Linked DNA regions of Homo sapiens: all the other regions are linked to region 2. The links come from fine-mapping of genetic effects on gene expression. A gene starts in region 2. Each other region holds a variant in brackets. All regions are shown on one strand. Distances are from middle to middle. Region 1 overlaps NAPA (NSF attachment protein alpha). Region 2 holds the start of DHX34 (DExH-box helicase 34). Region 3 has its middle 25 kb from the start of MEIS3. Region 4 overlaps DHX34 (DExH-box helicase 34). Region 5 has its middle 3.8 kb from the start of ZNF541.

What was found. PIP is the estimated chance that this variant, and not a neighbour inherited with it, causes the effect.
Region 1: its variant is fine-mapped to the expression of DHX34 in whole blood (GTEx, PIP 0.94).
Region 3: its variant is fine-mapped to the expression of DHX34 in nucleus accumbens (GTEx, PIP above 0.99).
Region 4: its variant is fine-mapped to the expression of DHX34 in whole blood (TOPMed, PIP above 0.99). The same link has a PIP of 0.9 or more in cerebellar hemisphere.
Region 5: its variant is fine-mapped to the expression of DHX34 in cerebral cortex (GTEx, PIP 0.99).

The regions. Positions count from the first base shown.
Region 1 is chr19:47,506,592-47,511,691 of GRCh38, forward strand. The region is part of intron 1 of NAPA (NSF attachment protein alpha); the gene reads right to left. Among named protein-coding and RNA genes, the nearest start is that of NAPA, 5.9 kb to the right of the region's middle. The variant G/A (reference allele first, on the strand shown) is at 3,205.
Region 2 is chr19:47,346,714-47,351,813 of GRCh38, forward strand. It overlaps DHX34 (DExH-box helicase 34), which reads left to right and starts at 2,602. Exons shown (of 17, transcript NM_014681.6): 1 at 2,602-2,639. C5AR2 (complement C5a receptor 2) reads left to right here. Exons shown (of 2, transcript NM_001271749.2): 2 at 1-616. RefSeq lists an enhancer at 2,442-3,346.
Region 3 is chr19:47,392,096-47,397,195 of GRCh38, forward strand. No RefSeq gene overlaps it. Among named protein-coding and RNA genes, the nearest start is that of MEIS3, 25 kb to the right of the region's middle. RefSeq lists enhancers at 213-859, 860-1,507. The variant A/G (reference allele first, on the strand shown) is at 2,726.
Region 4 is chr19:47,378,585-47,383,684 of GRCh38, forward strand. DHX34 (DExH-box helicase 34) reads left to right here. Exons shown (of 17, transcript NM_014681.6): 14 at 1,126-1,401; 15 at 2,232-2,408; 16 at 2,602-2,740; 17 at 3,396-4,120. The coding sequence ends at 3,529. Among named protein-coding and RNA genes, the nearest start is that of DHX34, 32 kb to the left of the region's middle. The variant C/T (reference allele first, on the strand shown) is at 2,622.
Region 5 is chr19:47,574,415-47,579,514 of GRCh38, forward strand. No RefSeq gene overlaps it. Among named protein-coding and RNA genes, the nearest start is that of ZNF541, 3.8 kb to the left of the region's middle. RefSeq lists an enhancer at 3,461-3,540. The variant C/T (reference allele first, on the strand shown) is at 2,880.

The sequences.
Region 1 (5,100 bases), 160 kb after region 2:
ACTGAGTGGCCCACAGCGGGCAATCAACAATGAGCAGAGTCAGCCCAGCCGGGTTTATTTCAGGACGGACACAAAGCCTACCAGCTGCCCGGGCTGAAACTCTGTGATCCCAGGCTAAGCACAGCCAACCCTGCACGGGGTCAATGATTCTGTGGGGTGGAAAGGCCAGAGGGATTAACACCTGCTCAGGCCCCAGGCTTGCCTCCTTCTTCCCCTGCACCCCGCGGTCTTGCCCATTACCATGGCCAGGGGATGACAGGAGATCTCCAGGGTCCCATCCTCTTCTTTTAGAAATGGGAGTGAAGTCCCCAAAGGGGGAAAGTGACGTGCCTAGGTTCCAGTGGAAGATCCTGAAGAAGCCATTCACATACACATTTATTCACCTGGGGAACAGGTATCCGAGCATTTATTACGTGCCAGGAGATAACAACAGTACACGAAAGGAAAATCTAGCTGGGCCTCCTCTCCTGAGGGCCTGGGTGGCAGCGCATGTGACAGCTGACTGTCCCTCCCCCACTGACCTCCCCCAAGCTGCCTCTGCTTCACTCCTCCCATCCCACGGCTCTGAGCCACTCCGGGAATAGAGGGAACTGGTTTGGGCTGCCTGATGCAGGGCTGTCTATAATTACCCGCTCAGCTTTGCTCTCTCCCCCTCCAAGGCGGAGGAAGGAGTCTCAGGTCTCCCAAACACAGCCACCAACCTCAGGGACTGCCATATGGAAGGCTGGGCACTGCCAGGAATACACAGATGCCTGATGGGACCTGGGCCAGGGGGTTGTGCAGGGCAGAGTCTTAGCCCCCTCCTTCCTTCCTCCATCCACCAGGCACTTCCTGGCTGCCAGAAATACACCATGCCCTGAGACCCACCACCTGCAGCTCCCGAAGGACCTCACGAGGCAGGGTGGACAAAGTCAGGCCCCCATTTCGGGTCCTGGACTCACTCTATCTCTCTTGCCTCTGTGGAAGCCACAGCCACAGGCCTACGGTTTCCTCCTCAGACTTAAGGCCCACTGCCCCAAGTCTCCAGTCAGCACCCTCAGTGGGGAAGGTGTCCTAGGGCCCGTCACATGCCTGTGTCTTCCCTGTAAGCCCACCTCCTGCACGGCTCTCGAGACCATGTGCCTTAATCACGGCTGGCGCATGGCGTTCCCTGCCTCCCAGGCACTCCCCTGGAAGGAGCCCACAGCTCCTCACGAGAGCCCTTTGGGTGCTGCCCTTGCTTTACAGGCGAGGAAGCTGGGGCTCAGAGAGGGCGGAGGGCTTGTCCAAGCTTACCCTGCCAGGAAGCAGCAGGGCTTGGAAAGAGGACTGGGGCCCTGGGGATCCAGTCCTGCCCTTGCCTCTCACTCAGTGATCAGGAAGGCTTCCTTCCCCATGCCCAAGGCTCCTTGGGAAAATAAGGAGGGAGGACAAGGTCCCTGCCTGCCCCCACCCCTCCTCTAGATTAAAGAAGCCAGGGAGCCTGTACTGCCTAGGCTTCCCTCATCTCACGAGCAGAGGCTGCTCTCTGCTGGGGCTGCGTGGAGCATCCTCTAGGCAAAGGAGTATGAATTAAGCCAGCCCCCTACCGAGCCTGCCAGTAACAAGCCAACAGGCAGAAGGAACGTCAGAAAAAGTTAAGGCTGCCTGTGGTGCAGGGTCCACCCTGGCACAGGGAGCCGGGGGCCACCAGCCCTGCTAGTCCACTGACTGCACTGGAGCTGGGAGCTGCCAGAGGCTCAGCATCCTGAAGGCACCGCCACCAGTATCACCTGGAAGCGGGAAACCACCAGCTGCCTCCCGCCACTCTGCAGTGGGCCTTGCCTGACCAAGCAGAGTATGAGTTCCTGCAGGGCGGGGCCTGAGCCCAGCTCTGCTTTCCCATCTCTCCACAAGCCCCAGTTAACAACGGTGAAAGAATAAAGTGTCACAGGCTAACTGCCCAGCTCTGAAATCGCCACAGGACCCTCTTGTGACATGCCTGTCTGGGCAAAGACAAGGGGTAGAAAGAGAATGACTTTGGGGTGGCGAGACCTGGGCTGAAGTCCGTTTCAGGTACTTTGCTAAGTGTTCGACCTGGGGCTAGTTATCCCTGAGGCTTTTTTTTTTTAAATAAGAGATGGGGTCTCCCTGTGTTGCCTACACTGGTCTCGAACTCCTGGGCTCAAGCAATCCTCCTGCCTCTGCTCCCAAAGTGCTGAGATTCCATTCTTTATCTACAAAATGGCAGCATGTCTGGCCACAGTGGCTCACACCTACAATCCCAGGGCTTTGGGAGGCCGAAGCAGGAGGGTTGCTTGATCTCGAGTTTGAGACCAGCCTGGGCAACACAGTGAGACCCCAACTCTACTAAAAATTAGCCAGGCATGGTGGCATATGCCTACAGTCCCAGCTACTTGGGAAGCTGAGGTGAGAGGATCACTTGAGCCCAGGAGGTTGAGACTGCAATGAGCTATGATCGCGCCACTGCCCTCCAGCCTGGGCAACAGAACAAGACCCTGTCTCTCAAAAAATGAAAAATGAAATAAAATGGAGACAATGAATCTGGCCTGGGAGGAGTCTTTGTGAGGATTAGAAATGACACATAGTCAATACTTGGCACAGAGCGCAGAATGGAAAAGGTGCTCAATGGTTGCTATTACACAAAGGAAGAGAAATACGCTCAAAGGGGTGCCTGCCACCCAGGAATGGGAATTCTAGAGAGTTTCTTGTGGTGGTAAAAATAAAATAAAATAAAATAAAATAAAATAAAATAAAATAAAATAAAATAAAATAAAATAAATAAAATAAAATAAAATAAAATAAATGCTGACAGTAGTCAGACAGGCCTGGCCTCAGCGCCAGCTCATCGTGTGCCAGCCTGCGTTTCCTTATGTGTAACTAGGCATAAGACTCCACACCTTGCAGGGCTGCTGAAGCACGAGCAATCTTGCAGGCAGCACCCCACGGCGTGCCCAGCAGAGAGCTGGCCACACCACGGGCGTTCAGTAAACGAGAGCATCCCTCTCATCAGGCCCCGCAGAGGACCGATTCCAGGCACGCTTCCCTACTTCAGAATAGCAGCATGGGCTTCATCTCCATCCCAGATTAGCTAAGTAATGCTCCTCCTTCGGCTTCCAGAGTCCTGGCCTCCCATGCCCCACCCCTTACTGCACAATGCTCAAAATACATACAGGCCCACGGCCCTTCGAGATGAGCTCAGAGCCAGGATCTCACCTGCCACAC[G/A]GCACACAGCCTGGCAGGCGCCCTGTTTCTTATTTTCTTATACGGATGCCCTCCTGCACCCCAACGGGATTACATTTCACCACAGACCAAGGGCGAATGTACTTCCTTTTTCTTAAAAGGTGTTCTCAAAGACCCTTGCCTCTCAGTAGCCCCATCCCAAAAAGGAGACGGAAATGTTTGTATGGCCAGGCAGCAAAGTCCTATCCATCAGGAAAGCCAGGAACTCTCGGATTCCCCAGAAACCTTGTGTGCCCTCAGGAAAGACTCCACTCTGAGACTGGGCAAGAGATGCCAAGTTTTCAGTTGTGGATCTTGGCAGCTGGCAGGGCACTGTGATTCACCAGGGTGCCCACTGGAAATGGCGCCGGGGTTTCTGCACGCTCTGCAGAGGAAGGCGGTCTGGAGAGAAATCTGGAAGCTCGTGCCCACACCAGTCTCAGCCAAGGCCCTGGGCAGGCCCTGTACAGACAAGCTGGCCCTCCCAGGGTCCCGCCGTTATTGCCTACAGGTAGTTCAAACAGGAACTGATTTGTCAAGATCTGATCTTAGGAATGCACTGTTTGTATACAGAACACCCTCTGCCACCTATTTCTCCAGCACTTCTAGCTCAACTTCCAATGACAATACCTACTAATAAAGATGACAGTGAGCCCTTAATAAACATTAGCAGAGCCAGGCAACGTGCTCCCACCACTTCCCACACATCGTCTCATTTATCCTTAAAACCACCTGAGGAAACAGTTACCATGATTTTCATTTCACAGATGAAGAAACTCCCTCTACACGTTTGTATCCAAGAGGAAGGAAGTTTTTATTTTGGCTATTTTGGGGACAGGGGAGGTGGCTGGGAAACATCAGGGATGAGGAAAAGCCCCAGGGAACAGAGCCGCCATTCAGAACCTGCAGGATCCCCAAACGGCACAGCAGGCACTCTGGATTCCCCAGGAGACACGCAGCAGGGAGGAGGAACTAGTGTGCCTGGACTCAGCCATCCCCTTCTGCTGCTGGCTCACTGTGCTGTAGTTAGGAAGTCTCCGTCTTTTTGCTTCCAGAGCAGAAGTTTGAGCTGCGCCCCCATCACCAAGGGGAGGAACAGGTATGGCTTTGAGCTTCTCCTAACTGGCTGGTGCTGTCGCCTTCAGTGGCTGCTGGTGCATCAAAGCCCCCTAGCGTCTGGCAGCCCAGAAATAATGAAGAGCAAGGGTGGCATCTGAGCACCAAGGCAGGCGACAGCACAGACACCCATCGCCTTGCGTCCCAGGTGCGGGCTCTCTGACTTGCCCTTTGACAGGGGCAGAGGCCCCTCAATGTGGGATGCTGTCATTGCTGGGGTTCCCAAAGGGGAAGGGAGAGGCACCAAGGACAAGCTGAGCCGCAACGCTCCCTTCTCCAGTCCCGGCAGCTACCAAGGACCTTGAATAAAGGTGGGTTATGAAATGTTGAACACAAGCAAACCCAGATCAGAGAGGAGGAGGTGCCTGAGTGATTCCCGCCCGCCAAGCAGGTCCTCCCAAGCTGGCCTCTGGCTGTGCTCCCAGCTCCCAGGCACACAAGCTCCGGTCAGGCCAGCCTCCCATCCTCCCTGCCCTCTGCCCTAACCTCACTCATACTCCCACAGCACCAGGTCAGCTCCTCTGGGAGCTGGAAGGAACTGAGATGAACACACCAGCTCTTTTTTTCACATATTTGGAGAAAACAGCCATGGGAGGACAGTTAAGAGGGTGGCAGCTCTCCAACACACCTAGTTTGCCAACATCCTTCCTAAATGTAGTGCCCAGAGATGGTCATGAACCTTGAGGAGAAACTACCGTGGTAGCACAGCAAAGGGGCTAAGTGAGAAGGCTCTGGAATCACACAGAACTGGGTTTGAATGCCACTTCTCCCACTTACTGTGGG
Region 2 (5,100 bases):
AATAGTAAGAAAGAAGGAAAGACACAAAGACAGAAAGAAGGAAGGAAAGAAAGCAAGCTGTTTTCCCCTGCCTTGCCCCTGCTCACCTTTGAATTCTTTTCTGGGCAAAGCCAAGAACCCTCGTGGGCTAAAACCCCGCTTTGGGGCTTAAAGTTTGCAAAATCCTCCCATTAATCTATTGGGACCAGTTGCCACTTAGGAGCATTCTTTGATAACTTTTACAAAACATCTTTTGTGGTTTTTGAAATGTTTTCATTTTGTAGATCATTAGCCCTTCTTTTTTGAACTGGAATACATTTCACGGGAATTTTCAAATTTAAGTCTGTGCAATGTTACATAAAATACCTTTGATTATTAAAAGCCATCTGTTTTGCTATAACTTCCCTTTTTTGTTCTAAAGTTTGTCTATTTCTGCTATTTGTTTTTTTACCATAGAAATATTGATTTCCTTAAGTTTTCAAAGAACCAAGTTATTAATAATTTCTCTAAGAACTAGTCTCAAGCTTGCTATACAATCCTATGGTTGATAGACTGTGGCTTTCTTGTTGATTTCCATTTGTTGTTCATTTCCTCCAATTTTCCTTTTTTAAAAATTATAATTATTGTTTGGATTATTTATTTATTTATTTATTTGTTTGTTTGTTTATTTGAGACAGAGTTTCTCCTTGTCGCCCAGGCTAGAGTGCAATGATGCGATGTTGGCTCACTGCAACCTCCACCTCCTGGGTTCAAGCGATTCTCTTGCCTCAGCCTCCCGAGAAGCTGGGATTACAGGTGTCCGTCATCATGCCTGGCTAATTTTTTATATTTTTAGTAGAGACGGGATTTCATCATGTTGGCTTAGCTGGTCTCGAACTCCTGACCTCAGGTAATCCACCTGCCTCGGCCTCCCAAAGTGCTGGGATTACAGGCGTGAGCCACCGCACCTGGCCTTGTTTGGAAATTTTAAGCAGAATGCTTAGTCCATTTATTCTTCTTCTTTTGATAATAATGTATGAATTGGCTTCTCTATCTCTAAGTTGTTTTCCAGAGGCTTGATAATTATATCCAACGTTCCACTTGACATCCCCAGTTGATGTCCAATGCATAACTCAAACAATATGCTGAAAACAGATCTTCGGATTTTCTCTCTAGCCTCTCTCCCACGTCTTCCTGATGGTAGTAGATGGTGACTCCATATTTCCAAATGCTCAGGCCAAAAACTTTAGAGTCCTTCTTTTTTTTAGACATAGAACTTTTTTCTGGCCAGGCACGGTGGCTCATGCCTGTAATCCCAGCACTTTGGGAGGCCGAGGTGGGCGGATCACGAGGTCAGGAGATCGAGACCATCCTGGCTAACACAGTGAAACCCCGTCTCTACTAAAAATACAAAAAATTAGCCGGGCGTGGTGGCGGGCGCCTGTAGTCCCAGCTATGCGGGAGGCTCAGGCAGGAGAATGGCGGGAACCTGGGAGGCGGAGCCTGCAGTGGGCCGAGATCGCGCCACCGCACTCCAACCTGGGCGACAGCGAGACTCCGTCTCAGAAAAAAAAAACAACAACACTTTTTTCTTTTTTTGAGACAGTCTGGCTCTGTCACCCAGGCTGGAGTGCGGTGGTACCATCATGGCTCACTGCAGCCTCAGTCTCTCAGCCTCCTAGGTTCAATCGATCCTCCCACCTCAGCCTCTTGAGTAGCTGGGACTACAGGCACACACTACCATATCCGACTAACTTTTGTATTTTTTTGTAGAAACAGGGGTTGGCCATATTGCCCAGGCTGGTGTGGAACGCCTGACCTCAGGTGATCCACCTACCCCGGCCTCTCAAACTGTTGGGATTACAGGCGTGAGCCGCCGTGCCCAGCTGTTTCTTCTTTCAGTTAATAAAAGAGAGGGTGCATTGCTGGCTAATGAGATTGTTTCTATACTTGGGGGTCTTCCTGAATGTGTGTGATTGAGTTTATTGCAGAGAAAGGTAACAGAAAATGGGGTTGTAGAAAGAAAAGAGGTAGAGGCTGAGTGAGATGCCCCACATCTGTAATCTCAGTGCTTTGGGAGGCCAAGGCGGGCGGATCACTTGAGATCAGGAGCTGGAGACCAGCCTGGCCCAAATCGTGAAACCTCGTCTCTACTAAAAATACAAAAATCAGCCAGGTGTAGTGGTGTGCGCCTGTAATCCCAGCTACTCGAGAGGCTGAGGCAGGAGAATGGTTTGAACTTGGGAGGCGGAGATTGCAATGAGGTGAGATAACGCCACTGCACTCTAGCCTGGGAGACAGTGAGACTATGTCTCAAAAGAAAAAAAAAAGTTCCTGGGCCCCAGACCAGCTCTCTCTTTGGGTTAAAACCCCGGCGTCCCGGAGCTGAGGCGCACGTGGCTATGCTTGGGGAGGAGAGGGCGGGGCCGGGGAGGAGGCGCTTGCAAGTCTGTACCGCAATGCCTCTACTGGCCTCTAGAGGGCGCAATCACTCGAGGCTCCGCCCCAAGCGAGGCGGGGCGGAAGCGTGCTGTGCACAGGCGCAAGATGGGTCTTGGGCAGCCCAGAGCTTCCGATTGGCTCTTCTGTGGTGGCGGGGCGGGGTCAGAACGAGATGGCTGTGTGCGCAGGCGCAAGACTAGCGCTCTTGGGACCGGAAGTTAAGGCGTTCGCGGCGTGTGGTAAGTGAGGGGGGCGGGACGGGTGTACCGGGTTGTGGCGGCGATGGCTGTCGGAGTTGGGCCGCTTGGGGGTAGTTTGGGGTGCGAGTCCAGGGGCGAGGGAAGTCTCGAGATGAGGAGAAATGTAGGAGGCAGCCGAAGGGCCGGCAAACGCGGACAGAGATGGCACCTGAGCGTCCCTGGGAGAACCTGGGCGACAGGCCAGAGACCGAAAGAAATGGAGGCACGAAAAGAAGCTTCGAGAAACTGAGGGACTGAAAGACGAGGGTGTTGGGAGAGGAGGGAAGCTGAAAACTAGAGAGCGTGGGCGAGAGTGCCGATGGGTTCCAGCGAGAGTCTTAGAGCCCACGAGGCCGAGAGGCGTGGTCGCCCATGAACTTGGGGAGTGGAGGGAAAAGTCGGAAACTGATCGTGGACACTAGAAACAGAAAAAATGGAATTTAGATGGAGAAACGAGACACTGAATCACGGGGGAGACCGAGAGATACGGAAGGATGGAGACAGTTGAAATAGGAAGAACCCCACAAAAGCTGGAGATAATGGAGAACGATGCTGAGAAATGGAAAAGCGAGGGAGTGGAGCCCGAACCCCTGGATTTGAGTGGCTCATGTAACACTCGGCTACTCACTTAGCCTCTCTATTGCTCAGTAAAATAGGGGGTGATCATAGTGCCTGACAGTCGTGAGAAAAGTGTGTGTGTGTATGTACATAGGTGTGGGATAGGAATAGATCATGCAGATAGGATAGGTCTGTGTGTTAATGTGAGTAAGTAAGCATGAGCTATTACTAAAGCTTCTGATATTGGGAGATAAAGTATTAGATGGGGAAATGGAGAGAGGTGGTGATGGAGAGTGAATACTGGAAGGACAAAAGGGAGGAAAAAAAGATTCAAACAGAAAATGAGAAAGGGCGTGGTGACTCACTCCTGTCATCCACAGCACTTTGGGAGGCTGCGGTGGGAGGATCACTTGAGCTTGGGAGGTCGAGGCTGCTGTACGCCGTGATTGTGCCACTGCACTTCAGGCTGGGTGACAGAGTGAGACCCTGTTTCAAAAAAACAAAAATGAATTTTTTTTTTTTTTTTTTGAGATGGAGTTTCGCTCTTGTTGCCCAGGCTGGAGTGCAGTGGTGCGATCTTGGCTCACTGCAACCTCTGCCTCCTGGGTTCAAGCGAGTCTCCTGCCTCAGCCTCCAGAGTAGCTGGGATTACAGGCAGGTGCCACCACCCTGGCTAATTTTGTATTTTTAGTAGAGACGGGATTTTTCCATGTTCGTCAGGCTGGTCTCGCACTCCCGACCTCAGGTGATCTGCCTGCCTCAGCCTCCCAAAGTGCTGGGATTATAGGCGTGAGCCACCATGCCCGGCCTGAAAAAGCATTTTTTTTTTAATGAGAAAGATGGAGAAAGTCAAATGGAGAACTGAAGAGAGATGGAGAAAGGAAGAGTTGGATTACAGAGAAAAATCAGACTACAGAATGACTCATAAGTGAAGAGAGATGCGAGCTGACTAGGACAGGGAAGAGAGATGAGGGTGATGATGAACAAGACGGACTGAAAAAGAGACAGAGGCCTGAAGATGGAGTGGAGAGAGATGGAGGGGACAGAGGGGGAAACAAACCCACTGAAGGCCATGAGCCCAGGGCAAATAGGCCAAGAGACCAAAAGATGGTCAGAGACACAGTTATACAGAAACTAGAAGATGCAGACAATCTAGAAGCCAAAAAAGATAGATACCTTGAGAGGAGCGGGATGCTGTCAGTGGGGCCCAGCATGCATAAGCAGTTTCTAGCCTCAGAAGAATGCTCTCATTTTCTTTTTCTTTTTTTTTTTTTTTTTTTTTTTTTGAGACAGAGTCTCGCTCTGTTGCCCAGGCTGGAGTGCAGTGGCTCAGTCTTGGCTTCCTGCAAGCTCTGCCTCCAGGGTTCGAGTGATTCTCCTGCCTCAGCCTCCCGAGTCGCTGGGACTACCCGAGTAGCCAGGTGCCCGCCACCACACCTGGCTAATTTTTTTTCTCCAGCCTGGGTGACAGAGCAAGACTCCATCTCAAAACAAAAAAGACTCCAACTGTAAGCAAAAAGGCATTTTCTGGTGTAGCTGAGAAGTGGGGGGTTGAAGGGAACTAAGCTTCAAGACCTAAATGATGTTGCCAAGCTTCTCTTCCTCTCCCTCTTTCACCTCTCCCTGTGGTGCAGTGACCATTCTTGTGCCTGTATCTAGTTATTTCTCTAGGATAGATTTTAGGAAAGACTCTGTCATGTTCCAGAGCTACCACAAAGAGCTCCAGGCTTATATCAAACTTGCCTGATTATGATGGATAAAATGAGAGCTTTTCTGTCCTAGCAACCGAGTGTAAATTCCACAAAAGGGCCCTGATTGGCCCTTCTTGGATCATGTGTCCGCTTCTCAGGCCAATCCTTGGTTAGAGGGGGAGTAGACTACTAAGACTGGCCAGGTCTTTGTT
Region 3 (5,100 bases), 45 kb after region 2:
CTCACTATGTTGCCCAGGCTAGTCTCGAACTCCTGGCCTTAAGAGATTCTCCCACCTGGGCCTCCCAATGTGTTGGGATTACTGGCATGAACCACCGCCCGGCCAAGTCATAGCACTCTGGTGGCTGCTCTGACTCTGCTGTCCAAGCGGTAACCACCCACCTTGCCTTTGGTCATTAAGTTCTGTCACTTGGTCCCTGCCACCCTGAGATCCAATTATCCCCATTGGAGTCAGGCTTTCCGATTCTTGCTCTGTCCACCCAGGCTGGAGTGCAGTGGCGTAATCTCAGCTCACTGCAACCTCCGCCTCCCAGGTTCAAGCAATTCTCCTGCCTCAGCCTCCTGAGTAGCCAGGGATTACAGGCACCCGCCACCACACCCAGCTAATTGTTTTGTATTTTTAGTAGAGATGGGGTTTCATCTTGTTGGCCAGGCTGGTCTCGAACCCCTGACCTCAGTGATCCGCCTGCCTTGGCCTCCCAAAGTGCAGAGATTACAGGCGAGAGCCACCGTGCCCACCATAATTTTTGTATTTGTAAAGAGCCAGGATTTCACCATGTTGGCCAGGCTGGTCTTGAACTCCTGATTTCAGGTGATCCACCCACTTCGGCCTCCCAAACTCCCACTGTAAGTTCTGACCTAGGAGGAGCGCGATCGCAACACAACAATGCCGTGGACACAGACACGGTTGATAGAGACCAGCTTGTCACACAATCCCAACCCTAGTTCAGTCTTGTCAGGCCTCTGAGCCCAAGTCAAGCCATCACATCCCCTGTGACTTGCACGTATACGCCCAGGTGGCCTGAAGTAACTGAAGAATCACACAACAAGTGAATATGCCCTGCCCCACCTTAACTGATGACATTCCACCACAAAAGAATTGAAAATAGCTTGTTCCTGCCTTAACTGATGACACTATCTTGTGAAATTCCTTCTCCTGGCTCATCCTGGCTCAAAAGCTCCCCTACTGAGCACCTTGTGACCCCCCACTCCTGCCCGCCAGAGAACAACCCCCCTTTTTCCTTTACCTACCCAAATCCTATAAAACGGCCCCACCCTTATCTCCCTTCACTGACTCTCTTTTCCGACTCAGCCCTCCTGCACCCAGGTGAAATAAACATCTTTATTGCTCACACAAAGCCTGTTTGGTGGTCTCTTCACATGGACGCGCATAAAATTTGGTACCATGACTCGGATCAGGGGACCTCCCTTGGGAGATCAATCCCCTGTCTTCCTGCTCTTTGCTCCGTGAGAAAAGATCCACCTGTGACCTCAGGTCCTCAGACCCACCAGCCCAAGAAACATTTCACCAATTTCAAATCCGGTAAGCGGCCTCTTTTTACTCTCTTCTCCAACCTCCCTCACTATCCCTCAACCTCTTTCTCCTTTCAATCTTGGCACCACACTTCAATCTCTCCCTTCTCTTAATTTCAATTCCTTTCATTTTCTGGTAGAGACAAAGGAGACACGTTTTATCTGTGGACCCAAAACTCCGGTGCCGGTCACGGACTGGGAAGGCAGCCTTCCCTTGGTGTTTAATCATTGCAGGGACACCTCTCTGATTATTCACCCAGGTTTCAGAGGTGTCAGACCGCGCAGGGATGCCTGCCTTGGTCTTTCACCCTTAGCGGCAAGTCCCGCTTTTCTGGGGGAGGGGCAAGTACCCCAACCCCTTCTGTGTCTCTACCCCTTCTCCACCTTTTCTAGGGGGCAAGAACCCCCAATCCCTTATTTCCACATCCCGACCCCTTTCCCACTTTTCTGGAGGGTAAGAACCCCCGAACCCCTTCCCTCCGTGTCTCTATGCTCTCTTTTCTCTGGGCTTGCCTCCTTCACTATGGGCAACCTTCCACCCTCCATTCCTCCTTCTTCTCCCTTAGCCTGTGTTCTCAAGAACTTAAAACCTCTTCAACTCACACCTGACCTAAAACCTAAACCCCTTGTTTTCTTCTGCAACACCGCTTGGCCCCAATACAAACTGGGCAATGGCTCTAAATGGCCAGAAAACAGCACTTTCGATTTCTCCATCCTACAAGACCTAAATATTTTTTGTCAAAAAATGGGCAAATGGTCTGAGGTGCCTGACGTCCAGGTATTCTTTTACACATCGGTCCCTTTCTAGTCTCTGTTCCCAATGCAACTCGTCCCAAATCCTCCTTCTTTCCCTCCCGCCTGTCCCCTCAGTCCCAACCCCAAGCGTCGCTGAGTCTTTCCAGTCTTCCTTTTCTACAGACCCATCTGACCTCTCCCCTCCTCGCCAGGCCGAGCTAAGTCCCAATTCTTCCTCAGCCTCCGCTCCTCCACCCGATAATCCTTCTGTCGTCCTCACACCCAGGGTGTCCTCACACCCTGTCCAGCTTACAGTTTAGTTCCACGACTAGCTCTTCCCCACCTGCCCAACAATTTCCTCTTAGAGAGGTGGCTGGAGCTGAAGGCACAGTCAGGGTACATGTACGTTTTTCTCTATCAGACCTCTCTCAGGTGAGTCAGCGTTTAGGCTCTTTCTCATCAGACCCCACTAAACATATACAGGAATTCCGATATCTAACTCTGTCCTACAACTTAACCTGGAGTGACTTAATATCATCCTGACTTCTGCCCTCTCCCCAGATGAGTGGGAAAGAGTTTTTCTCTAGCCCAATCTCACGCTGATAACCGCCGGCTTCATGAGCCAGACCTCCAGGAAGGCAGTAGAGCAGTTCCCCGAGAGGGTCCCCAATGGAACT[A/G]TCAGGCAAATTCCCCAGGTATAGCTAGGTGAGATTACATGGTTTCCTACCTAGTTGAAGGGCTTAAAAAGGCAGCTTACAAAGCTGTTAATTATGACAAACTTAAAGAAACTACCCAAGGTAAAGAGGAAAACCCAGCCCAGTTCGTGGCCCACTTAGCAGCAACACTTAGACGCTATACCGCCCTAGACCCAGAAGGGCCAGAAGGCCGCCTTATTCTTAATATGCATTTTATCACTCAGTCCACTCCTGACATTAGGAAAAAACTTCAAAAATTAGAATCTGGCCCTCAAACCCCACAACAGGAATTAAGCAACCTCGCCTTCAAGGTGTACAATAATAGAGAGGAAGCAGCCAGATGGCAACGCATTTCTGAGTTACAATTACTTGTCTCTGCTGTGAGACAAAACCCAGCCATACCTCCAGCTACAAGAACTTCAAAATGCCTAAGCAGCAGCAGTCAAGCATTCCTACAAGACTTCCTCCATCAGGATCTTGCTTCAAGTGCCAGAAATCTGGCCACTGGGCCAAGGAATGCCCACAGCCCAGGATTCCTTCCAAGCCATGTCCCATCTGTGCAGGGACCCACTGGAAGGCAGACTGCCCAGCTCACCCAGGAGCCACTCCTAGAGCCCCTAAAGCTCTGGCCCAAGGCTCTCTGACTGCTTCCCAGATCTTCTCGGCTTAGCGGCTGAAGACTGATGCTGCCCGATCGCCTCGGAAGCCCCCTAGACCATCACAGACGCCAAGCTTCATGCAACTCTCACAGTGGAAGGTAAGTCCGTCCCCTTCTTAATCAATATGGAGGCCACCCACTCCACATTACCTTATTTTCAAGGGCCTGTTTCCCTGCCACCATAACTGTTGTGGGTATTGACAGCCAGGCTTCTAAACCTTTTAAAACTCCCCAACTCTGGTGCCAACTTAGACGATACTCTTTAAAGCACTCCTTTTAGTTATCCCCACCTGCCCAGTTCCCTTATTAGGCCGAGATATTTTAACCAAATTATCTGCTTCCCTGACTGTTCCTGGACTACAGCTGCATCTCATTGCCGCCCTTCTTCCCAACCCAAAGCCTCCTTCGCGTCTTCCTCTTGTGTCCCACCTTAACCCACAAGTATAAGATACCTCTACTCCTTCCCTGGCAACCGATCACATGCCCATCACCATCCCATTAAAACCTAATCACCCTTACCCCGCTCAACGCCAATATCCCATCCCACAGCACGCTTTAAAAGGATTAAAACTTGTTATCACTCTCCTGCTACAGCATGGCCTTTTAAAGCCTACAAACTCCCCTTACAATTCCCCCATTTCACCTGTCCTAAAACCAGACAAGCCTTACAGGTTAGTTCAGGATCTGTGCCTTATCAACCAAATTGTTTTGCCTATCCACCCCATGGTGCCAAACCCATATACTCTCCTATCCTCAATACCTCCCTCCTCAACCCATTATTCTGTTCTGGATCTCAAACATGCTTTCTTTACTCTTCCTTTGCACCCATCATCCCAGCCTCTCTTCGCTTTCACTTGGACTGACCCTGACACCCATCAGGCTCAGCAAACTACCTGGGCTGTACTGCCGCAAGGCTTCACAGACAGCCCCCATTACTTCAGTCAAGCCCAAATTTCATCCTCATCTGTTACCTATCTCAGCATAATTATCATAAAAACACAGGTGCTCTCCCTGCTGATCGTGTCCAATTAATCTCCCAAACCTCAATCCCTTATAAAACAACTCCTTTCCTTCCTAGGCATGGTTAGTGTGGTCAGAATTCTTACACAAGAGCCAGGACCGCACCCTGTAGCCTTTCTGTCCAAACAACTTGACCTTACTGTTTTAGCCTAGCCCTCATGTCTGCGTGCAGCGGCTGCCGCTGCTTTAATACTTTTAGAGGCCCTAAAAATCACAAACTATGCTCAACTCACTCTCTACATTTCTCATAACTTCCAAAATCTATTTTCTTCCTCATACCTGACGCATGTACTTTCTGCTCCCCGGCTCCTTCAGCTGCACTCACTCTTAAGTCCCACAATTACCATTGTTCCTGGCCCGGACTTCAATCTGGCCTCCCACATTATTCCTGATACCACACCTGACCCCCATGACTGTATCTCTCTGATCCACCTGATATTCACCCCATTTCCCCATATTTCCTTCTTTCCTGTTCCTCACTCTGATCACGCTTGATTTACTGATGGCAGTTCCACCAGGCCTAATCGCCACACACCAGCAAAGGCAGGCTATGCTATAGTACAAGCCACTAGCCCGCCTCTTAGAACCTCTCATTTTCTTTCCATCGTGGAAATCTGTCCTCAAGGAAATCACTTCTCAGTGTTCCATCTGCTGTTCTACTACTCCTCAGGGATTATTC
Region 4 (5,100 bases), 32 kb after region 2:
CTTGGGAGGCTGAGGTGGGAGGATTGTTTGAGCCCAGGAGTTCAAAGGCAGCCTGGGCAACATAGGGAGACTCTATCTATCTCTACAAAAAATTTTAAAAAGTTAGCTGGGCGTGGTGTTGTGTGCCTGTAATCCCAGCTACTCGGGAGGCTGAGGCAGGAGGATTGCTTGAGCCTGGGAGATTGAGGCTGCAGTGAGCTGTGATTGTTGACACTGCACTCCAGCCTGGGTGACAGAGTGAGACACTGTCTCAAAAAATAATAAGCCGGGCATGGTGGCTCACGCCTATAATCCCGGCACTTTGGGAGGCCGAGGTGTGTGGATCAGTTGAGGCCAGGAGTTTGGGACCAGCCTAGCCAATGTGGTGAAACCCCATCTCTACTAAAAATACAAAAATTAGCCGGGTGGGTGGCGCGTGCCTGTAATCCCAGCTACTAGGGAGGCTGAGGCAGGAAAATCGCTTGAACCTGGGAGGTGGAGGTTGCAGTGAGCCAAGATTGCGCCATTGCATTCCAGCCTGGGCAACAGAGTGAGACTCATCTCAAATAAATAAATAAATTAATAATAATAATAATAAGAAGAAGAAGATGGAGAAACTTCACATTCACATAAGCAGGCAGAACAGTATATGGAGCCCTCCTGTACCATCCCCGGTCCCCAAACCATCCACGCATGGCCAGTCCTGCCCTTTCCTCTGCCCTGGCCCCAGCCCTGAGGATTTTCCCCAACATCTTATGAGCCACAGCACTGGTAATTACAGCGCTGACTTCCGTCCTCACAGAGGAGCGTGTGCTCAGGGTCTGGGCTCTCCCTGCACGTCGTGTGTGTCTGAGTGCCTGCTGTCCCTCTGCCACCCTGCCTGAGAATGCAGCTGTCTCTCTCCCAGCACGCTCCCATCTGCCGCCCCGCCACCCCAGCCCCCTTCCCTGACTCAGCGGCTGCCTTGTTCATGCCGTATCCCCAGCACCCGAAGGGGTGCCTGGTACAGCGGGTAGATGGCGGGTAGGTGGATGCCTCACATAGACAGGGCTGGTGGGTGGGCAGGAGCCCAGCCGGGCAGGGCCTGTCTCCAATAGCGCCCTGCCCCTCCCACCTACTCCCTGTCTTCTGCCCCCTCTCTTTCAGTCCCTCCTGCTTTTTAGCCGGTCTTTGGACACCAATGGTGACTGCTCCCGCCTGGTGGCCGATGGCTGGCTGGAGCTGCAGCTAGCAGACAGTGAAAGTGCCATCCGACTCCTGGCGGCTTCCCTGCGGCTCCGTGCCCGCTGGGAAAGTGCCCTGGACCGGCAGCTGGCGCACCAGGCCCAGCAGCAGCTGGAGGAGGAGGAGGAGGATACGCCAGTCAGCCCCAAGGAGGTGGCCACCCTGAGCAAGGAACTCCTGCAATTCACGGCATCCAAGGTACCCTCCACCAGGGTGCCCGTGCCTCCCTATGGCCAGAAGGGGCATCCGTCACTGGGCTTGAGCCTCGGGAAGGCCTGGCTTCCCATTCACTCCACATGGGCACATTTGGGGGTTTTCAGGCCACAGAGGTTCAGTCACTTACACAAGGTCACTCCACTGGTCTGGGTGGAGCTAGGATTTGATCCCAGGAGCCTGGTTCCAGAGGCCACACTACCCACTGCTGCCTTGTTTACTAAGCACCTTCTGCAAGCGTGGCTGATCCCCTCTTGCTAACAGTAAAGGACAGGCAGGGTGTGAGAGGGAAGCCGTAGACGTCTGCTTGTGGATGGGAAGAACTGAACTGAGCAGACTTGAAACCAGCCCCTGACTCTTAGGTGGGGAGTGGAAATTGCTCGTGGTTCTACTTCATGTGGGTGGGGTGGGGAGAAGGGTACAATCCAGGCTGACTTCCTGGAGTAGAAGGGCTTGAGGACAAAGGAGCAGGAACCCAGTGAGCCATGGAGAGGGGACCAAGGCTGACATGCTAGGAGGAGGAGGGGGGAGGTGGCCAGACTTGAAGGTTAGACTCAAGGTCTGAATGGGGTCCCACCAGTGACAGGGGCAGAAGAGGGGCCTGGGGAGGGCAATTTAGATGGGGGTGGGTTATCAGGTATATTCTAGACAGACCCCTGGTCATGTGTGTCTGCAGCCAAATTGTGATTGGTGTAAGCACTTGGCTCCCGTAACTGCAAAGCCCGAGGGAGGGCTTCAGGCACAGCTGGATCCAGGTGCTTTGGCGGCATCTCCCTGAGTCTGTCTCTCTCCATTTCCTGTCTCTCCTTCCTTAGATTCCTTACAGCCTCCGGCGGCTCACAGGGCTAGAAGTCCAGAACATGTATGTGGGACCCCAGACCATCCCAGCCACCCCCCATCTTCCTGGCCTCTTTGGCAGCTCCACCCTGTCCCCCCACCCCACAAAGGGGGGCTACGCAGTCACTGACTTCCTCACCTACAACTGCCTCACGGTAAGCATGAACCCTCCTTCCCTGAAGGTGGGATTTCAGGAAGACCCCACCACCCCGTTTCACCTTAGTCCAGGGACATAGTTCCCAAGTGGGGCCCGTGGCCCTGAGGGCTTCTGGGAAGGGTCCCGGGGGGGCACTTGGGTGGTGGGTGGCACTTGGCGGGGGCCCAGCCCTGACAGCTGGCCTGCCACAGAATGACACAGACCTGTACAG[C/T]GACTGTCTCCGAACCTTCTGGACCTGCCCCCACTGTGGCCTGCATGCGCCCCTCACGCCCCTGGAGCGCATCGCCCATGAGAACACCTGCCCCCAGGCCCCACAGGATGGGCCCCCAGGTAAGCACAGGACTGTGGGGACCCGGCCACCTCTGCCCAGCCGTCTGCCCATCCCATGATGGTCTCCTGTGCGTGTGAGCACTTGCTAGAGCTTCGAGGACTGACGACCTCCACCCGCTGGCCCTGGCTGGTGCCACACACAGGCCTTGTCCTGAAGATCAGGAGCCCAAGGCAGGGAGAGCCTGGAGCGCCACCTCTTTCTGTCTGCCTGTCCCCTGTGGTGTCTCTGTGTTGCTGTCTTTGTCTCTGTTTCTGTCTCTCTGTGGCTATGTCTCTTGTTATTTTTCTCTGTCCTGCAGCTATCTCTGCCTTGGTCACCTCCACCCTGTTGTCACCCAGGGATGCCACACACTGGGGTTCAGTGGGGGAGATAGCACTGGGGCCACATGCCTCCATCCCCGGCTGGCTGTGTCTGCCTCTCAGTCTCCATGTCTCTCCTTGTGTCTTTCTCTCTGTCTCTCTCACTGGCAGGGATGCGGAGTAAAGACAGACCTGTGTATTTTTATTAATCTGGGAGGGCTTCCTGGAGGAGGCAAAACTGGGTTCTCCAAAGGCCAGGAGAGAACCTGAGCCCCACAGGTGCCTGGCATTTGGGTGCAGGTAGACCTGTGCACTGGAACACGCCCCTCACAGCCTCCTCCTTTTCCTCCCTTAGGGGCTGAGGAAGCTGCCCTCGAAACCCTCCAGAAGACATCTGTCCTGCAGAGGCCCTACCACTGCGAGGCCTGCGGGAAGGACTTCCTCTTTACACCCACAGAGGTGCTGCGCCACCGGAAGCAGCACGTGTGAGCTGGGCCAGGAGCCCTGCCCACCTCCGTGCAGCTGACCTGCCCTCCAGCCCAGGACTAGGGGCAGGACTCTTGCCTGAACCCCCAGCCTGGGCTTAGCCCTGTGGTCCTGTCCCAGTGCAGAGGGCCTGGAGCACGGATTGTGAATAAAGCCTCACATGCTGATACACACTGTTAGGCCTGCACCTGCCCATCCAGAAAGCAGCAGCTGCCTTGTTAGTCCTCCCCAGGGTCTAGCTTTCCTTCTTCCTGCTGCAGGGTGCTGCCTGAGGGGTCCTGGGTAGGAGGGGCGTTAGAGCCAGCAGGGACCTCCCATGTCTCCAGATTCCAGGTGCAGGTTCTTAGCACCTCCGCAGCCGCTCTCTCTTGAGTCCATCCTCAGTCTCTCCTACCCCTTGAAGTAGGGGGACCCTGAATTTGCCCATCCACCTGGGTCACTTTGAGAGTTGTGCAGGGGGGCTGGGAGCACTGGTGTTCACGTGGGACCACAGGCTGCACCATAAGACCCACTCACAATAAAAAAATAAAAGGCCGAGCCGGGCATGGTTGCTCACTCCCGTAATAAAAAAATAAAAGAACAGGCTGAGCCGGGCATGGTTGCTCACTCCCGTAATCCCAGCACTTTGGGAGGCTGAGGCGGGTGGATCGCCTGAGGTCAGGAGTTCGAGACCAGCCTGGCCAACATAGTGAAACCCTGTCTCTACTAGAAATACAAAAACTTAGCTGGGTGTGGTGGTGGGCATCTTTAATCCCAGCTACTGGGGAGGCTGAGGCAGGGGAATCACTTGAACCTGGGAGGCAGAGGTTGCAATGAGCTGAGATCATGCCATTGCACTCCAGCCTGGGCGACAAGAGTGAAACTCCATCTCAAAAAAAAAAAAAAAAAAATCAGGCTGAGGCAGGTGGTTTGCCTGAGCTCAGGAGTTTGAGACCAGCCTGGGCAACACGGTGAAACCCCATCTCTATTAAAATACAAAAAATTAGCTGGGCGTGGCAGCGTGTGCCTGTAATCCCAGCTATTCAGGAGGCTGAGACAGGAGAATTGCTAGAACCCAGGAGGCGGAGGTTGCTTGTGAGCCGAGATCGTGCCACTGCACTCCAGCCTGGGTGACAGAGCGAGACTCCATCTCTAAAAGAAAAAAAGAAAATGAAAAGAACAATAAAATCACTCAGGAGAAAAAGAAGGCACGGCATAGGAATGGAAGGAGGACAACCTGTAGGTCCTACAGATGCGAAAAGGAGAAGAGAATACGATAAACAACGTGCCACACAGAAATTCACTCATTTGAAATGGAAAAAATTATTGAAAGACACTAGCTACCCAAAGCTCATTCAGGAAGAAATAGATAACCGGAACAACTCTATTAAGGAAATGTAATTCATAGTTAACAAAGAGAACAGGCTCAGATGGGCTCCCTGGTGACGTCTACCAAACATGGAAATGATACTCGCCCACACCCACTTGGCCACAGCATAGGGGAGGACGCCTCCTGACTGATGTTATGAGGTCAGCATTATCCTGCTGCTAAAAGCAGGCTATGACAATGCAAGAAAAGAAAACTCTAAGCCTTA
Region 5 (5,100 bases), 230 kb after region 2:
GTCCTGCAACTGAGGCAGATAATTCATTCCTTAGAAACGGAGTGCTGAAGATCTGTGGAGAATGAGAGCAGATTAGTGGTTGCCCGGGGTGGAAAGGGGCATCGCGGATCTTATCTGGGTAATGGAAATATTCTAAAACTGAGCTATGGGCCAGGCGTGGTGGCTCACGCCTGTAATCCCAGCTCTTTGGGAGGCCAAGGTAGGAGGATCCCTTGAGCCTAGGAGTTTGAGACCAACCTGGGCAACCTAGTGAAACCCTGTCTCTAAAAAAAAAAAAAAAAAAAAATTAACTGGAGATGGTGGCATGCGCCTGTAGTCCCAGCTACTTGGGAGGCTGAGGCAGGAGGATCGCTTGAGCCTGGGAGTCCAAGGCTGCAGTGAGCTATATGATCAGGCCATTGCACCCCAGACTGGGGGATAGAGCGAGACTCTGATGGGGGAAAAAAAGGGTTATGGTGATGGTTGCACAACTCAGTAAATTTCTAAAAATCAGTAAGTATACACTTAAGTGAGTGACTTTTATGTAAATTATACCTCAAAGTTTTTTTTTTTTTTAATTGATTATTGGGGGAGGAAACAGAGGAAAGAAGAGGGCCTGTCATCTTGCTTTAGGATCCCTTCATTTAGCAAGTTTTTATTGGGTCTCTGTTCTAGGTGCTCAGATATAGTGTCTGGGTCAAACAGACATTCCTCTCCTCCTGGAACTTATGTTTTAGAGCAGTGCTGTTCAGTAGTAATAAAATGCAAACTTCAAGCACCAGCCACTTATGTAATTTTACATTTTCTAGTAGCCATGTTTAAAAGGAACAAAATGTAAAGAAGGCAGGTGTGGCGGCTGGCACTTGTAGCCCAGCTACTTGTGAGGCTGAGACAGGAGGATCACTTGAACCCAAGAGTTGGAGACTGCAGTGAGCTATGGCCCTGTCTGTGTAGAGCCACTGCACCAGCCTGGGCAACATAGTGGGACCCATTCTCTTAAAAAAAAAAAAAAATGGCTTGGGACGGGTGTGGTGGTTCACACCTGTAATCTCAACACTTTGAGAGGCTGAGGCAGGAGGATTGCTTGAGTTCAGGAGGTCAAGACCAGCCTGGGCAACACACCCAAACCTAAAAATCAAATAAATAAAAGTAAATAATAAAATAAAAGAGAAAGAAACACAAGTGAAATTAATTTGGTAATATTTAATCCCAAATATTTCAACACATTATCAGTATAAAAACTAAGAGATAATTTACACTTTTGGGGCTGTCTTTAAAACCCCACATATACAGTATTTTACATTCACGGGACATCTCAATTCAGACCAGCCACATTTCCAGGGCTCCATGGAACCTTGTAGCGAGTGGCTCTGGTACTGACAGCATACCTCTACAGGGGGACAAGCAAATGCATTTACTTTTTTTGTTGTATTTTTTTGATACAGGGTCTCACTATGTCACCTAGGCTGAAGTGCATTGTTGTAATCATGCCTCGCTGCATCCTTGACTTCCTGGGCCCAAGCTATTATACCACCTCAGCCTCCTGAGTAGCTGGTACTACAGGCCTGCACCACCACACCCAGCTAATTTTTTGTATTTTTAGTAGAGACAGGGTTTTGCCATGTTGGCCAGGCTGGTTTTGAACTCCTAGGCTCAAGCAGTCTTCCTGCCTTGGCCTCCCAACATGCTGGGATTACAGGAGTGAGCCACCGTGCCTGGCTGCAAATACATTTATAATGCAGTATGTTATACCTTGAAGAAAAACAAAGGAAAGAGGATGGGGTCAGAGGGTATTGTTTTATACAGGTCAGTAAAGGCTTCTCTGGTGAGATTGCATTGAGCAGAGATCTGAAGGAAGTAAGGAAGGGTCCTATGAAAATATCTGGGGGAAGAAGAGAGGGAACAGCACGTGCACAGGCACTGAGGCAGGAAGATGTGGAACCCTTTTGAAAGACAGCAGAGAGGCCAGGCATGGTGGCTTATGCTTGTAATCCCAGCAATTTGGGGGGCCCAGGTAGGCTGATCACTTGAGCCCAGGAGTTCGAGACCAGCCTGGCCAACATGTTGAAACCCCATCTCTACTAAAAATACAAAAAATTATCTGGGCATGGTGGTGCACACCTGTAGTCCCAGCTACTCGGGAGGCTGAGGCATGAGAATCTCTTGAACCTGGGAGGCAGCGGTTGCAGTGAGCCGAGATCACGCCATTGTGCTCCATCCTTGGTAACAGAGTGAGACTCTGTCTCAAAAAAAAAAAAAAAATCAGAAGAAGAGAGACCAGTGTGGCCAGAACCACGTGAGTGAAGAAACTAGGGGCAGATGGCATAGGGACTTACAGGTCATGCTAAGGCAGGAATTAAACTCCTGGAAACAATTTCAGAGGGTTCTTCCTTTATTTAGCACACTTTTTGTTTTGTGGGGTTTTTTGTTTGTTTCTTTTATTTTCTTTCTTTTTTTCTTTTTTCTTTTTCTTCTTTTTTTTCTTTTGAGACAGAGTCGCGCTCTGTAACCCAGGCTGGAGTGCAGTGGCACCATCTCGGCTCAATGCAACCTCTGTCTCCTGGGTTCAAGTGATTCTCCTGCCTCAGCCTTCTAAGTACCTGGGATTACAGGCTCGTGCCACCACGCCCAGCTAATTTTTTGTATTTTTAGTAGAGACGGGGTTCCACCATGTTAGCCAGGATGGTCTCCATCTCCTGACCTCGTGATCCACCCGCCTCAGCTCCCAAAGTGCTAGGATTACAGGTGAGAGCCACTGTGCCTGGCCTTCTTTTCTTTTTCTTGTTTTCTTTTTTTTTTTCGCTTATTTAGCACACATTTTAAAAATGCTTTGTTTCAGCCATGTAATCTCTCTTCTTGATGGAGGAAATAAGGATCCTAGCCACTGGACAGATGAGAAT[C/T]TAGTTAAAAAACAGGACTTAAGCTCCTGAAATAAATTAGCATCTTCTGTCATTGATAGACATTGAACACTTCATGGACACAGAAGATAAATGCAACACATAAACAAAAAATTAGCATTAGCCAAGCATGCTTGTAATCCCAGCACTTTGGGAGGCCAAGGCAGGTGGATCACCTGAGGTCAGGAGTTCGAGACCAGCCTGGCCAACATGGTGAAACGTCCATCTCCACTAAAAATACAAAACTTAGCCAGGTGTGCTGGTGCGTGCCTGTAATCCCAGCTACGCAGGAAGTTGAGACAGGAGAATTGCTTGAACCTGGGAGGTTGAGTCTGCAGTGAGCCGAGATCGCACCATTGCACTCCAGGCTGGGCAACAGAGCGAGACTCTGTCTCAAATAAAAAAAAGCATTTAGCATTTATTTTAAAGGCCTACAAATTAAGGTGACAACCTAATAAAAAAAAAGAATATAAGATTTGAAGAGGCACTTCATACAAGAGGAAACATGAAGTGAGGACTAACCACAACAACAAGAGAATGCAAATTAAAACCAAAGATACCGCAGCACACCTACCACTTCGGTGAATCAAAAAACATTTTTTTTTTTCTGTTTGCTGAAGCAAGACGAACTGAGTATACAGGACTAGTGACAGGTAAAATTGGTAGAACCACACTGACAAACCCAGGGGTTAACTCTAGAAAACTTCTTGATCATGTGCGCCAAGAGATGCAACAGAAGAACAAGCAGCAATGTTTGTAATAGCAAAAAAAAGAACAGAAAAGAAAGGAAAGAAACAGATTGGATCCTGGATTCTGGATTGAATAATCCTGGAACAAGATAAATAAATAAATAAATAAATAGGCCAGGCATGGTGGCTCACGCCTGTAATCCCAGCCCTGTGGGAGGCCGAGGCAGGTGGATAACTTGAGGTCGAGAATTTGAGACCATCCTGGTCAACATGGTGAAACCCCATCTCTACTAAAAATATAAAAATTAGCTGGGCATGGTGGTAGGCACCTGTAATCCAGCTAAGGCTTAGGAGGCTGAGGCAGGAGAATCGCTTGAATTTGGGAGGTGGAAGTTGCTGTCAGTGAGCTGAGATGGTGCCACTGCACTCCAGCCTGGGAAACAGAGTGACAGTGACTTCATCTAAAAAAAAAAAAAAAGACATTACTTAAAAAACTAGAGAAATCTCCAACAAAGGCCAGGCATCTGTAATTCCAGCACTTTGGGACCCCAAGGCAGGAGGATCACTTGAGCTCAGGAGTTCAAGACCACCCTGGGCAACTTGGTGAGATCCTGTCTCTACGAAAAAATTTTAAAAGTTACCCAAGCATAGTAGCACACACCTGTGGTCCCAGCTACTCCACAGGCTAAGGCGAGAGGATTGCTTTAGCTCAGGACTGCATTCCTATCTGGTTAACAGAGCAAGACTGTCTCAAAAAAAAAAAAGAAAAAATCTCAACAAAGATTGGAATTTAGTTAATAGTAATGTATCCACTTTTTGGGGTTTTTTTTTTTTTTTGAGACAGAGTCTCGCTCTGTCGCCCAGGCTGGAGTGCAGTGGCGCAATCTCAGCTTGCTGTAAGCTCCGCCTCCCGGGTTCACGCCATTCTCCTGCCTCAGCCTCCCGAGTAGCTGGGACTACAGGCGCCCGACACCACGCCCAGCTAATTTTTGTATTTTTAGTAGATGGGGTTTCACCGTGTTAGTCAAGATGGTCTCGATCTCCTGACCTCGTGATCTGCCGGCCTCGGCCTCCCAAATGCTGGGATTACAGGCGTGAGCCACCACGCCCAGCCTTTTTTTTTTTTGAGATGGAGTCTGGCTCTGTCTCCCAGGCTGCAGTGCAATAGCATGATCTTGACTCACTGCAACCACCGCCTCCCAGGTTCTGCCTCAGCCTCCAGAGTAGCTGGGATTACAGGCGCCCGTCACCACACCCAACTAATTTTTATACTTTTAGTAGAGACGGAGTTTCACCATGTTGGCCAGGGTGGTCTAGAACTCATCCTGACCTCAGGTGATCCGCCCGCCTCAGCCTCCCAAAGTGCTGAAATTACAGGCATGAACCATTGCACCCCGCCTGTTTTGTGTGTGTGTGTTTTTTTTTTTTTTTTTTTTGAGACAGGGTCTCATTCTGTCGCCCAGGCTGCAGTGCAGTGGTGCCATCTGGGCTCACTGCAATCTCCGCCTCCCAGGTTCAAGCCATTCTCCTGCCTC